Linked DNA regions of Homo sapiens. The protein of the gene in region 1 interacts with the protein of each later gene in a biochemical or structural test. Each region holds a gene or a part of one and is shown in the gene's direction. Other genes may lie near its edges.

Region 1 (7,199 bases):
GAGATGCAATTCTAGGAGTAGGGCTCTTGCTGCTCAAACTTTTGCTTTTCTTAGAGGGGTTATGGATGCATGTTCATAACAGAAAGGGTACTCCTTGAGAAAGGGAATAATAATAATCATTTCAGAAACTACTATCTCTGAATGCTTGCTTTGTGCCAGGCACAGGTAAGACATTTTCTGCTTGTTTAATTTTCAGAACATCATTATAGGGCTATTATATTATCCCCACTGGATAAAAGAGGAAGCAGAGAGGTTCCAGTAATTCTCTCAAAGTCATAAGCTGTGGAGCCAGGTTTGAACTGAAAGCAGTCTCTGACTCCAGAACCCTGTTTAGCACCCCTGTTCTCAGCCCCATGGCTCGCTTGGCTCTCCCCAGCATCTCAATGGGTCTGAAGGTAACTAAGCCATGGCATGTGGACTGTGGGGTGATGGGCCTCACCCATCACCTTGTTCAGCCTCTCACTTCTCAGATGCGGACTTTTTTTTTTGGAGACAGAGTTTCGCTCTTGTTGCCCTGGCTAGAGTGCAATGGCACGATCTCGGCTCACTGCAGCCTCTGGCTCCAGGGTTCAAGTGATTCTCCTGCTCAGCCTCCGGAGTAGCTGGGATTACAGGCATCCACCACCACACCTGGCTAATTTTTTGTATTTTTAGTAGAGACAAGGTTTTACCATGTTGGCCAGGCTGGTCTCGAACTCCTGACTTCAGGTGATCCACCCGTCTTGGCATCCCAAAGTGCTGGGATTACAGGCGTGAGCCACCGTGCCTGGCCCAGATGGGGGTATTTTGATGATGAAGAGGAAGAGAAAGAAAATGTATCTTTCCTCCTTGGGGTTTCTTATTTGGCCTGTGACATTCCATTCCCACCCCTCCTCCAATTTGCCATTTTATTGACTTTTTCTAACTGGATGTACCTGGGTAGAAACTCCTCATACTATTGGCCCTGGTCATTGCTTTGTCTTTAGTTTTCCTTTTAGAAAAACAAAAACAAAAACAAGAAAAACAAGAGGAGCCTCTATTTCTTTGAGGTGGAGGTAACTGGTGAACTTGTGCTGGTCCTGCATTGAGCTCACCTGCCTCCCCAGTGGCCAGTCCTTGGCCCTGAAAGTCAGGGATGATCTAGCTCTAGGCATGGCTATTCCATCCAGGGGTGAGGCAGAAGTATCTCTCCTAAAGTCCTGCTCACCAGGAGCTCCCGTCCCCATACTACAGGTTCACATCCAGCTTTCAGGACTAGTCAGTCTATGTGGCCCTCCCTCAATTAATAAATCAGCAACTAATTTGCCAGGTGCGGTGGTTTGTGCCTGTAATCCCAGCACTTTAGGAAGCTGAGGCAGGCAGATCACTTGAGGTCAGGAGTTCGAGACCAGCCTGGCCAACATGGTGAAATCCCGTATCTACTGAAAATACAAAAATTAGCCGGGCATGGTGGTATGCACCCGTAATCCCAGCTACTCAGGAAGCTGAGGCAGGAGAATCACTTGAAACCAGGAGGCAGAGGTTGCAGTAAGCTGCACTCCAGCCTGGTGACAAGAGCAAAACTTTGTGTCAAAAAAACAAAGAAAACCAAAAAACAAAGAAAAACACAAAAAACCCTTCTATTTGTTAAAAAAAAAAAAATCCACCGTGAACCAAAAATTAGTAAAAACAATGAACTAAAATTTTGTTTTTGCAAAATGTATGATAACAAAATGTTAAGGAAGGTCATGTGCCGTTATGGTTCACTGCAGCCTTGAACTCCTGGGCTCAAGCGATCCTCCTGCTTCGGTCTCCCTAGTAGCTGGGACTACAGGCTTGTGCCACCGCACCCAGCTTATTTTTTTTTTTTATTTTTTGTAGAGATAGGAGTCTTGCTTTGTTGTCCAGGCTGGTCTTCAACTCCTAGCTTCCAGTGATCCTCCTGCCTCAGCCTCCCAAAGTGCTGGGCTGATGGGACATTTTTATACATAGTGCCATGTTACTATAAATGAGAAGTTTTAAAAATACTGATTTTAAAAATTAATTTATGTCAAGAATTTTTATAACCAAAGTTAAAAAACCAAACAAAAAATATGAAAAGGGTTAATATCTTTGAGAGGTGATGAGAACTTATAAGTCAATAAGAGAAAACAAACATCCCTATAAATGAATAAGCTAAGGACATGAATGGGTAATGTACATAAGAAATGTAAATGTCTAGTAATATGCCAAAATAGATTTATTATTACTAATAAGCCACTTTCACTCTCTAGTTGGCAGAGTTGTTTTGAAAAATAGATATGTAATGATGGTGGAAAAGATTGGTTTAACTATTCAGCAGGAAAATTTGGCAATTAGAAGTGTATCAAAAGCCTTAGAATGTTTCATAACCTTAGATTGGGAAATTCCACTTCTAGAAATTAATTCACTTCTAGAAATAATCATGAGTGTGCACAAAGATATTACCACAAAAATATTTTACAGTATTATGTCTAATAGAGAAGAACTAGAAATAATTTAAATTTCCACCAATACAGGTTTGCCAAAATACATTTTGTACATTCACCTAATGGTATATTATGTCCCTATTACAAATTATGTCCTAGAATATTTAATAGCATGGAAAAGTGTTAACAGTATTTTTTTAATGAAAAAAGCTTACAAAACAGTTTGTGATGATTCCATTTAAAATGTGTGTTTATTCATAGAACAAAGATTAGAAAAATAAACATTGATATATTAAAGGGTTATTTCATGGCAAATTGCAAATGATTATTTCCTTTTTTTGTGGCTTATTTGTATTTTTGAAGTTTTCTACAATGTAAAAGAATATTTTATGATATGAAAACTACAATACAATTTATAATATAAGAAAGAATAATTCGGCCGGGAACGGTGGCTCACGCCTGTAATCCCAGCACTTTTGGAGGCCGAGACCGGCGGATCACGAGGTCAGGGGTTCAAGACTAGCCTGGCCAACATAGTGAAACCCCATCTCTACGAAAAATACAAAAATTAGTCAGGCATGGTGGTGCGTGCCTGTAGTCCCAGCTACTCGGGAATTGCTTGAACCCGGGAGGTGGAGGTTGCAGTGAGCCCAGATCGCACCACTGCACTCCAGCTTGAGCAACAGAGTGAGACTTCGTCTCAAAAAAAAAAAAAAAAAAAAAAAAGAATAATTAACAGAAAATGGTTAGACACTTCCTTAGTGTCTCCTAAGTCAGGAGGACCCCAGTAGGGCAGGGATCCTCATGGCCTCCTCCCATTTGGAGCATTATTGGAGGTCTTTTTCGGCCTCTTCGTCAAGTGGAATCTAGCTTCCGGTAAAACTACAAAGTAACCAAAAGTTTGGGAGGTGGAAGAAATGCAACCGGTAGATCTCACAGAGTCTGTGCAAGAAACTGATTCAATGAGAATCTAGTTTCTCCGTCCACAGTTTCTCCAAACAGAAACTAAGGCCGACTTTAGGGGCTTGTCCAAACCTAGGCAAGCAACTTAACAAGGTGAGGCCATGACTCCATGGCCTTTCCGTTCTGTTATATGCTGACTTAGACTAAAGCTCTCATACTTTAAAGTGCACAGAAATCTAGTTAAAATGCAGATTCTGATTCAGGTTAGGGGTGGGCCTGAGAGTCTGCATTTCTAACCAGCTCCCAGGCGATGACCACGCACGGGACAGGTCTGGGATCACAGTTTAACTAGCAATGGTGTAGAACACAGAATCTGCAGCAAGAAGGCCAGCTTCCCAATCCTAGCTCTGCCACGGACCAACTGAATGACAGTTGCCTCGGTTTCCGAGTTTTCGTGAAGATGTAGTGAGTCATTACATCGTGAGGCTTTCGAGCAGCGTTCACTAAGAACTAGCTCTGACATTATTTATCGCATTCCTTAGAGCAAGCAGCCGGTGAAGTAGGGTTTGACGAATGAATAAGTGAATGAATGACCTTTGGAGAAAAATTGTTTCCTGGGTGACTAGAGTCCGAGAAGCAAAATGGGAGGGCCCGTGGGTGGGTAGGAGGCCCACCTCCTAGAAAGTTCTCTGCACCCGGTGGTCCAGAGGGCCTGGAGTGCCCGGAAGCCGGCCGGCTTGCGCTCAGCGGCCCAATGGGGCCGCGGGAGGGAGGGGAGAGCGCTCAGCCAACCCTTTCCGTCCGGGGCGCCGCAGCCCCGCCCCTCGGAGCGTTGCGACGTCCGAGCATTCCACGGTTGCTACATCGTCGCGAGGGGCGGGGCGCCTGTCAGGGAAGCGGCGCGCGCGCGCGGGCGGCGGGCGGGCTGGGGATCCGCCGCGCAGTGCCAGCGCCAGCGCCAGACCCGCGCCCCGCGCTCTCCGGCCCGTCGCCTGCCTTGGGACTCGCGAGCCCGCACTCCCGCCCTGCCTGTTCGCTGCCCGAGTATGGAGCTGCTGTGTTGCGAAGGCACCCGGCACGCGCCCCGGGCCGGGCCGGACCCGCGGCTGCTGGGGGACCAGCGTGTCCTGCAGAGCCTGCTCCGCCTGGAGGAGCGCTACGTACCCCGCGCCTCCTACTTCCAGTGCGTGCAGCGGGAGATCAAGCCGCACATGCGGAAGATGCTGGCTTACTGGATGCTGGAGGTACCGCCCGGACGCGTCCCCCTCCCCCACCGCTCCCGGGTCTGGACACACCGGGGCCGCCCTGTCGGGACATCCCGGTCCCCACAGCAATCTGCAGGATGCTCCGAGGCTAAGACTCCCGGGGCCTGGCCTTTCACTAGGGCACCCACGCCAGCTGCCTCCCTTGCTTTCCCGAGCCCTAATCGGCTCCTCCCGACAGTGACTGCCAGTCACTTGGCACCCTAACTGTGCCTCTCTTCGGGCCGAGCAAACGGGACCAAGGACACTCTCTCCCCTTCGGCTTCTCACAGCGTCTCCCGCTTCCCTCCGCCTCCCGGCCTTCTCCGGAGAGCGCGCCTGGAAAACCCTGGGCTCGGCCGCCCCCGCCCGGGAGCCGGTTCCTGTGTCTTTCGCGGGGTTCTGGCGGGGAAGGCGATGGGGGTGGCGCGCGCCCTGTTCCGGCCGACAGGGAAATGAAAAGTGCAGGAGGCAGCGGCAGGAGCCTCCTCCCTTCCCCTCGGGTGTGTGCAGTGGTGGCGGTGATGGGGGTGAGGTCCCAGCTCTCTGGCTACCATGGGTGACCCTTGCGTCCCACTTCCCCTCGCTGTGGGGGAGGGGAGTCTCCGTTTGGAATCCTCCGTGAGCAAGGGCTCCTTGGCTTTACCACTCCCCCGTCAAGGGGAGAGGGGAGGAGGCCGCGCAGAGGAAGTGGGGGGCGTCACCTTGGGGAGGGCGCATCCTCCTCCTTTATTGGTCCTTGTCTCTCTAAGTAGCTTACCCTCTCTGCCGTTTTTGCTCCCTATCCCACCTCACTTCAGCGCTCCCACCCCCCCGCTGCTGTGTTCCCCACGCTCCAGACCCAGCAGTGACTGTGCGCCCTCCCCCAGGTATGTGAGGAGCAGCGCTGTGAGGAGGAAGTCTTCCCCCTGGCCATGAACTACCTGGATCGCTACCTGTCTTGCGTCCCCACCCGAAAGGCGCAGTTGCAGCTCCTGGGTGCGGTCTGCATGCTGCTGGCCTCCAAGCTGCGCGAGACCACGCCCCTGACCATCGAAAAACTGTGCATCTACACCGACCACGCTGTCTCTCCCCGCCAGTTGCGGGTGCGTGTGTAACTCCCCCCACCCCCGACACGTATTGTCTCCCCACTTTCCAGGAAAAGGAAAGCTTGAGATATCAGAGGCTTTCTGCCCCCTGGAGAGGAAGCAAGGGGATCAGGACCTTTGGGAAAGGAATTGGGGTGGAACAAACGATGGGGCATTGTGGTGTGATGGTTAGTATCACTCCCGCCCAGGCTTGAGCTGCAGGCAGGCATTAAACCCCCTCCTCCTGACCTCCAGGGGATGCCACTCCTTCCTGGTCTTTCCCCCAGATAGCAACAAGTCAAATTGCATGTCTACACTCACTAGTACTTTGCCTCTGGGTTTACGCAGCCACCATGAGTTATTTATTGGCAGCAGAAGGGCATGCCTGCACACCCCCACTGGAGTAGGGGAGTGGAATGTGCTTCATGTGGGGGAGGGGGTTTTGCCTTGGTTGAGTCTTTATCCTCATGTGGACTTTGTGATAGAAAAGCCTCCCAGAGCCAATTAAAGCCAGGCCCTGATTGCTTTAAGGAAGGGCTGATGTATTTCATCCCACCTTCTTTGCTTCCTCTTATATCCCGGAAGAAACAGCTTCTTCCTAATCCTTCCTCGTCCTCATTCTGAGGAACTGGAGCAGCTGCTTTGGGCCTGGTGGAAACAGCTCCCTCTTCCCCCCTTAGCCCAAGGCCCAAGCTGAGGGACAGACAGGGAGGTGAGCTGCATCTGCTTCCGATGTGATAATGGTGCCCCCTCCCCTGGCCCGCCCTCTCTGACCAAGGTCTTTCATAACCCTGTGGGGAGCTGCTGTCACTCCTGTGGTTTGGGAAGTGGCTCCCTGGGCCTCTTGCTGGAAACTTGGGCTGGGCTCAGGCCGGGCAGGAAAGTCACCGGTTCTGTCCCGCCTCAGAAGGAGCCTGGGGAGGAGGCGGGGGAGCTGCTGGATCTGGAAGAGGTTATTTAGGACATGCAGATTGTCTCCTAGGGAGGCTGGGGGAGAGGGTGGGTGAGCTGGCACCTTCCTCCACCTTGCTCTGTGGCGGGCCAAGTCTTCTGCTGACCCTGAGAGGAGTCTCTGGGCCCCATCTCCCAGGGAGGAGGGCAGCAAGCAGGCTGCTGTGATTGGCTGGCAGGGAAGCCAGGGTACTGGGGCCCCCGACTGCTGTGAGTCGAGGAACAGGATTCCTCTTCCTGCCAAGTAGCTCAGAGATGGGAGTAGGAGGCCAGAGTTGGGAATCCAGGAGGCGCCACAGCTCTTTGTGATGAATCTGGTAGTTTTTGGCAAGTCTGAAGGTGGAGCTAGTTTCCAGGGCCAGAGAGCAAGATGTTTTTGGAGGGGTTGGGGCTGGAAGGTAGAAGGGGAACTTCCTTTTTGTGAAAAGATGGAGGTGGTTTGTGTGCCCACGTATGAGGGTTTTTCAGTACAGGCAAAAAGTACTCTTCCCTCTGCCTGAGCTGGGGGTGGAGTGCCCAAAAGACTTCCTAGAAGGTCAAGGTTGGAAGGGACCTCTGAGAACTCCAGTTGGTCCAAATCCGTGTGCAGCAGAGGAGGCTGAGGCCCAAGGAAGGAGGGCAAGGTCCTGCCT
Region 2 (7,319 bases), on another chromosome or scaffold:
CACCTTGGAATTTCCAGCCGCACAGCATCTGGTGCCCTCCCCTCCACCCTCACAAGGAGCTGCCATCCTGTTTGGATTTTCTGTTTGTGGACCAGAAACAAACGTTTTTCCAAAGGATTAGCAAATAGGGTAATTTCCTGTGTAACGCTGCTCTGGGGCCTCTTCCTCATCCTGGCAGAAGGAGCCTGGAGCCCATGAGGCAGCCAGCACTGTGCCCTTGCTCAGTCGTGCTGTCCCCTCCCTCTCCCTCAGTCTCCTCTCCATGCCCAAGTCAGTTTCCAGCCGCTGGTCTTCATGGCATTCCCAGCACAGCCGGGCACCAAGAGGCAAAACCCAAGGCCTGGCTTGGCCGTGTTAACGATTGTACAGACATTTTTTAAAATAACTTTGTGTAATACTTTTCTGGAATAGTAAGTTCTTGTTGAACTGTCACAGGTGAGCTTCTAGGAACACACCAGGTGTGGTTACTTCCACTGGGTGTGTCCATGGTCGTGGTCTGTGCTTTTGTAAACGAACAGAACACTTGAACCACCTCCCGAATTGGGTCATCGGCTTCTTTACGTTGATACTTAAGAGATTTGCAGCTCTCTTTCAAGGAAACTTCCCCTACTGAAAGGCATAAAAAGGTTAAAAAAGAAAATCCGAGAGTCCCAATTCCCTGTATAACAGCATTAAAATAATCTGCCTGCCTGGAAAGATGAGAACACTGTTGCACAACCCAAAATGTGTCTTTAATTTGTGAAAAATTACCATGGTGAGTCAGACAGTCATTTTAAACAGCTGAACAGAGACTATCATCAGCAAATAGAGCTCAGCTTTGTAGCTGCCTTTAAAATCCTTGTCCCAAATCCGGTGAGCTCTGCTTGCTGCCGCCGCGCTCCTGGGTGATCACTCAGACGGGTCAGTGGGAATAACAGGCCAACAAGACAGCTTTTTACATGTGTCCAAAGGATGGCCTTTCGAAGGCCTGGAAGTATTTCACTGTTGGAAGAAGTAAACAAGAATGACATTCCAGATGGAAATAGAATTCTCTCTCTTGCCTTTGACCAACATGGTACTAAGGGGTTTCTTCTTTCCCAATGTATGTACGTGCCCTGCTGGGGGCCTTACTTTATAGAATGAGAGCATCCGAGCTTCCCTAATGAATCTGGCTAGTTCTGTGTCTGGCTGAGGATACAGGAGTGGGACATCCACTCTCGGATCCCTCAGAGCACAGAAACCTTCAGCTTTGCTGTCTCTGAAGTATTTCCTCCAGTTTCCCTGCGGGCCCCTATGTTTGAGTTTGATGGCTGCTGGATCCTCACTCAACGAAAACTCGGTTGGAAACTGTTCCGCCTGGCAGTCCTTTTTTGTTGTTTTCCATCTCATTTCCCTTCCATCTGAAAGTGGCATTCAGCTGACTTGCTCATTTAGACTGTTCACGGAGTCTGAATCTGCCAACGTGGTGTTGGAGGCTCCACCTTGAAAAGGGCCACAGTCAGGGCAACTTTCCCCATACAGGAAAACTTGAAAATTACATCAACAGTCTACGTCACAGCCAAATTATATTTCCTTTATACCAAACAAAACTATGGAGAACTAAAAGTACATCACACAAAACGTTTATAGTGTTTTGCATGTGACCTATTTCAGTATTTATATAACTAGATTAGTGCTTTCTAGCAAACGGTTCTGTTAATTAGCGAGTCACTGTTGATTCTGCTGTGGTGGTAAGTTGATACCGTGTAACTAATCCCGTGGATGCCTCCTCGTTATTTTTGTCCAAACGAAGCAGCCGTGGTAGTAGCTGTCTATGATTCTTGCTCAGCAAAGTAAAATAAATGTTAAATATGGACTGCTTTGTTTTCTTCCTTGTGGAACTCTGGTGTTCATGCTACTTTGTTCACCGGTGGGGCTGGCTGTTGCTAGCAAAGAGGCTCTTCACAGAAGTGGCTGAACCCAAAGTTCTGGTTGGGAAAGGCCTTTGTGGCAGCTCCTATCAAGCGCAAGTGCGAGGCCACCCCCTCCTCGTGGGCTCTGGGGTCGATTTTGTTAGGGTTTGACATGAGTGGCTGCATTTGGGTACTCACAGATTTCACAAAGGAAGGGTAAACTGGAGATTTTTGGCCGGGCACGGTGGCTCATGACTATAATTTCAGCACTGTGGGAGGCTGGTGGGCAGATACTTTAGGTCAGGAGTTCAAGACCAGCCTGGCCAACATGGCAAAATCCTGTCGCTACTAAAAATACAAAAGTTAGCCAGGTGTGGTGGCGCACGCCTATAATCCCAGCTACTCGGGAGGCTGAGGCAGGAGAATCACTTGTACCCAGGAGGCGGAGGCTGCAGTTACCCAAAATTGTGCCACTGCACTCCAGCCTGGGTGACACAGCGAGACTTTTTCTCAAAACAGAAAAAAACGTGCTGTGGCTCACGCCTGTAATCCCAACCCTTTGGGAGGCCAAGGCAGGCAGATCACAAGGTCATGAGATCAAGACCATCCTGGCTAATACAGTGAAACCCCATCTCAACTAAAAACACAAAAAAATTAGCCGGGCGTAGTGGTGGACGCCTGTAGTCCCAGCTACTCGGGAGGCTGAGGCTCGCAGGATAATGGCGTTGAACCCGGGAGGTGGGGCTTGCAGTGAGCCGAGATTGCGCCACTGCACTCCAGCCTGGGCGACAGAGCAAGACTCCGTCTCAAAAAAAAATAAAAATAAAAAAATAGGGAGATTTCCCCAGTTACCAAGAACTCAGGAAGCAACATTAAGAGCTTGGGGGAGGCCAGGCGCGGTGGCTCACGCCTGTAATCCCAGCACTTTGGGAGGCAGAGGCAGGCTGATCACGAGGTCAGGAGATTGAGACCATCCTGGCTAACACGGTAAAACCCCGTCTCTACCCAAAATAAAAAAAAAATTAGCCGGGCATGGTGGCAGGCGCCTGTAGTCACAGGTACTCAGGAGCCTAATGCGGGCGAATGGAGTGGAGGCGGGAGAATGGCGTGAACCCGGGTGGCGGAGCTTCCAGTGACCCGAGATCGCGCCACTGCACTCCAGCCTGGGCAACAGAGCGAGACTCCGTCTCAAAAAAATAAAAATAAAAAAAGAGCTTGGGTACACAAAGCAAGCAGCATTTCATTCCGGGATGAAAAAAATTCCGATACCCATCGCCCTTCTTGGGCCCTTGTCAGTTTCTTGCCACATCTTTCATTTTCCCATTTCAGGCCCAGTAAATGCGGATGTTTATCTTCCATTGTTTGTTTCCTGAGATTCAGATGTCTAAAGCATTTTTCTGTGACTTTTCAAGTCAAGAGGAAAACCTGACATATGGAAAGGGAATTAATTGCTCGTTTTATCCTCTTCTCCTGCAATGCTCTGAATCCATGGGTTTGGAGTGGGGCCCTGGGAGTTGGGGGAAGCACCATACCCAGTGAGTCTGCACTTTGAGGACCCACTGCCAGTGTCAGCTTCAAAATCACATTGTAAAAGGCCGGGCGCGGTGGCTCACGCCTGTAATCCCAGCACTTTAGGAGGACGAAGCGGGCGGATCACTTGAGGTCAGGAGTTCGAGACCAGCCTGGCCAATATGGCGAAACCTCGTCTCTACCAAAAATATAAAAATTAGCCGGGCGTGGTGGCGCGGGCCTGTGGTTCCAGCTACTCGGGAGGCTGAGGCAGGAAAATTCCTTGAACCCGGGAGGAGGCTGCAGTGAGCCAAGACCACGCCACTGCACTCCAACCTGGGCGGCAGAGCAAGGCTCCGACTCAAAAGTAAATACATGAATAAATAAAATAAAATCACATCGTAAGAGCTCTCCCTGCCCTGTTTCTGAGTAAGGTTCAGAGTTAAATTCCGAGATCGGCCTTTACAAGACACACAGACCTGAGGCGCCTCACGAGGTAACCAGCAGGTAAATGGAGCGCGCTCCACCCACCCGCCACTAGGGGTCCCAGCGGTCAAGGGGGTGGAATGCGGGCGTCCATCGCGAAGGCATTCTGCTCGCAAGCCTTGGCACAGGCGCGGGCTTCGCTACCGGAAAAGTCCCGGTAGGATTCCGGAAGCCGGCCACGCGTTCCGCGCAGGCGCAAACTGCTCCAAAAGTGGGCGTCGCTCCTCCGGAGTCCCGATTCCTGCGTCACAGCCCGCGCCGAAGTCGGAAGTGCGCTCACCGGGCTGTTTCTTCTGGCGTCCTGGACCTGAGCAAGCGCTGTTTTATGCGTTATCATCCCGCGCAGACACAGGAAGTGCCGCACAGAGCGAGCCCCTGTCGTTGTCTCGAGTTCTGGGCCGGAGGTCGGCTATTATATCATCATTACGCGCCAATACAGGAAGTGACGATACTTTTGGCGCGCGCCGGTTGCTGTTTCTTCTCTGGCTCCGGGACCGGCGGCGGCGGCGGCGGCAGCGGCGGCGGCGTAGGGGTGAGTTCCGACTGGGCGGACCAGGTGTGGGAGCGCGAGGAGAACTGCGCACCGAGGTCTTTCTTCCGAGCAGGCCTCGGAGCGGGGCGGACCCGGGCCCGGGGGCGAGCGACACCCTCGCTTCCGCGGACAGTCTCATCCCGCACGGAACTTTGGGTGGTGGAGGCGGCGGGTCCAAACGCTGTCTGGAGCCAACGTCTGCCAGGCTGAACCTCAAGTGTGCGGGACTGAACCCGAGGAAATAGCCCAGTGCCCGGGTCAGGTGGCCTTGTTCGCGAGCACATCTCGGAGCATCTCCCCGGTCTCAAGGTGCAGCTGTCCAGTGTGCTAGTGGCTTCACGTAGTCCAAGCGGTCTTTCTAGCAGATTCTGACAGTAAAAGCAGTGTTTGATGAGTGGCAGGTCCTGAGTTAAGAGCCTTTAAACGGATGATCTTTAATCCGCGATCGATACTATCACGTAGGTGTTGTTATTCTGGTTGTACGGAAGACTAAACTGAGGTGAATTACGTTACCCAAGACCATACAAGAATGACAGAAACGAGACTTGATTTCAAGCGGTCATTTTTCAGAACCCATCACTCTTTTTTGTCGCCCATGCTGCAGCGCAGTGGCTGTTCACAAGCGCACTTCAGCCTGGAACTCCTGGGCTCAATCGGTCTCCCATCTCAGCTTGCAGAGTATATGGGACTACAGGCGCTCGCCACCTTGCCTGGCTTACAACTTATCATTCTTGTTTTTTTTTCTTTTTTTTTTGAGACGGGGTCTTGCTGGAGTGCAGTGACGCGACCTCGGCTCACCGGAACCTCCGCCTTTCGGATTCAAGCGATTCTGCTGCCTCGGCCTCCCGAGTAGCTGGGATTACAGGCACCCGCCACCACGCCCAGCTAAGTTTTGTATTTTTAGTGGAGACAGGGTTTTCGCCGTGTTGGCCAGGCTGGTCTTGACCTCCTGACCTTGTGATCCACCCGCCTCAGCCTAGAGCTTACTTTTTTTTTTTTTTTTTTTTTTTTAACCAAGTCTTACTTTGTTATCTAGGCTGGAGTGCAGTGGCGCAGTCTTGGCTCATTGCAGCCTTGACCTCTCTGATTCAAGTGATCCTCCTGCCTCTAGCAGCCTCCTTCCTGTAGCTAGGAATACAGGCACGCGCCACCACACTGGGCTAACTTTTGTATTTTTTGTAGAGACGAGGTTTTGCCATGTTGCCCGGGCTGGTGTTGAACTCCGGAACTCCAGCGATCTGCTCGCCTCGGCCTCCCAAAGTGCTAGGGTTACCGTCTTGAGCCACTGCGCCGGGCACAACTTCTTATTCTTAATGAGGATTTATTCTGAATCCCTCAAAAGTGACTAGGTTCAAGTGTTCAGCACCATAGCTTGCTGTGTCCTGATGTAGGCTGAATTATTTTTCTTTTTGCAGTGTTTTAACTCAAATGGGTGATGAAAAGGACTCTTGGAAAGTGAAAACTTTAGATGAAATTCTTCAGGAAAAGAAACGAAGGAAGGAACAAGAGGAGAAAGCAGAGATAAAACGCTTAAAAAATGTAAGCCATATTTTTTAAGTAAGTGGTTTTCTTAAAGGAGATTTAATTTCTTTGCCCTCATTTTTCCATTAGAACAACGCTTCTTCGGTGAAGTTCTTTTGTACTTCCAAATGTCGCAGGTGAGCCCAAAATCTATTCTAAAAATTAACAAAAACATTCAAATATTCAGTTGACATTAAAGGCAGATTTAACACACTAAAGCTGTGTCTAGATTGAGCATACATGGAGAATAAAATACGTTGAATGTTAAGTCATTAGCAAAACTGGACTAATTTTTCTCGGTTCATTAGTATGTTCATAATACTATCTCTAAGTATTTTTAATATAGTGGGAACTTGCCTTGAAATTAATATAAATATTTTACATCTTTCTTGGTTTGCATGGTAATGTACTCAGGAAACCTTTTTAGTAATTTGGTAAGAGGCATTGGCAAAGTACCTCTTTTGCTAAGATCTTTAGCAGCATCATTTGGGATGTTAGTGAGTACAGGCATACCTTGTTGTATTGCACTTCACTTTATTATGCTTCACAGATATTGAAATTTTTCCAAATTAAAGGTTTGTAGCAACTCTGCATTGAGCATTTTTCCAATAGCATGTGCTCACTTTGTTAGCTTTTTTTTTGTTTTTGAGACGGAGTCTCGCACTGTCGCCCAGGGCCGGGTTCACGCCATTCTCCTGCCTCAGCCTCCCAAGTAGCTGGGACTACAGGGGCCCACCAACATGCCAAGCTAATTTTTTGTATTTTTTAGTAGAGATGGGGTCTCACGGTGTCAGCCAGGATGATCTTAATCTCCTGACCTCATGATCCACCCACCTCGGCCTCCCAAAGTGCTGGGATTACAACAGGCATGAGCCTCCGCGCCCGGCCTTTTTTGTTTGTTTTTGAGACAGTCTTGCTCCATTGCCCAGGCTGGAGTGCAGTGGCATGATCTCAGCTAACTGCCACCTCTGCCTCCTGTGTTCAAGCAGTTCTCCTGTCTCAGCCTCCTGAGTACCTGGGACTACAGGCACCTGCCAGCACGCTCGGCTAATTTTTATATTTTTAGTAGAGACGAGCTTTCACCTTGTTGGTCAGGCTGGTCTGGAACTCCTGACCTCAGGTGATTCACCTGCCTCACCCAGCCTCCCAAAGTGCTGGGATTACAGGCGTGAGCCACCATGCCTGACCTAAACCAAACTTTTATATGCGTTGGGAAACCAAAAAATCTGTGTGACTCACTTTATTGTGGTGTTTTGGAGCCAAACCCAAAATATCTCCAAGGGATGCCTGTACCATATGAGGTATCACAAAGTATTTGGTTTGCAAGATACGCCTTAAGATTCATTTTTGGCTCATATAAGCAACTAACATACTTGGCATAGAGTCTAATGTCCCTTGTC

Evidence for each region. The genes of interacting proteins can lie anywhere in the genome.
Region 2: the proteins of CCND3 (region 1) and CDK11B form a complex in vitro, tested with the Homo sapiens proteins (one study listed by BioGRID).

The regions. Positions count from the first base shown.
Region 1 is NC_000006.12:41,938,805-41,946,003, reverse strand, and holds the start of CCND3 (G1/S-specific cyclin-D3), read left to right. Parts: upstream 1-4,195; 5' UTR 4,196-4,354; coding exon 4,355-4,552; exon of another isoform or gene 4,553-4,842; coding exon of another isoform or gene 4,843-5,052; intron 5,053-5,418; coding exon 5,419-5,634; intron 5,635-6,798; exon of another isoform or gene 6,799-7,199. UniProt on the Homo sapiens protein: Regulatory component of the cyclin D3-CDK4 (DC) complex that phosphorylates and inhibits members of the retinoblastoma (RB) protein family including RB1 and regulates the cell-cycle during G(1)/S transition.
Region 2 is NC_000001.11:1,655,993-1,663,311, reverse strand, and holds the start of CDK11B (cyclin-dependent kinase 11B), read left to right. Parts: upstream 1-4,307; 5' UTR 4,308-4,398; exon of another isoform or gene 4,399-4,856; intron 4,857-5,813; 5' UTR 5,814-5,826; coding exon 5,827-5,937; intron 5,938-6,009; exon of another isoform or gene 6,010-6,047; coding exon of another isoform or gene 6,048-6,056; intron 6,057-7,319. UniProt on the Homo sapiens protein: Plays multiple roles in cell cycle progression, cytokinesis and apoptosis. Involved in pre-mRNA splicing in a kinase activity-dependent manner. Isoform 7 may act as a negative regulator of normal cell cycle progression.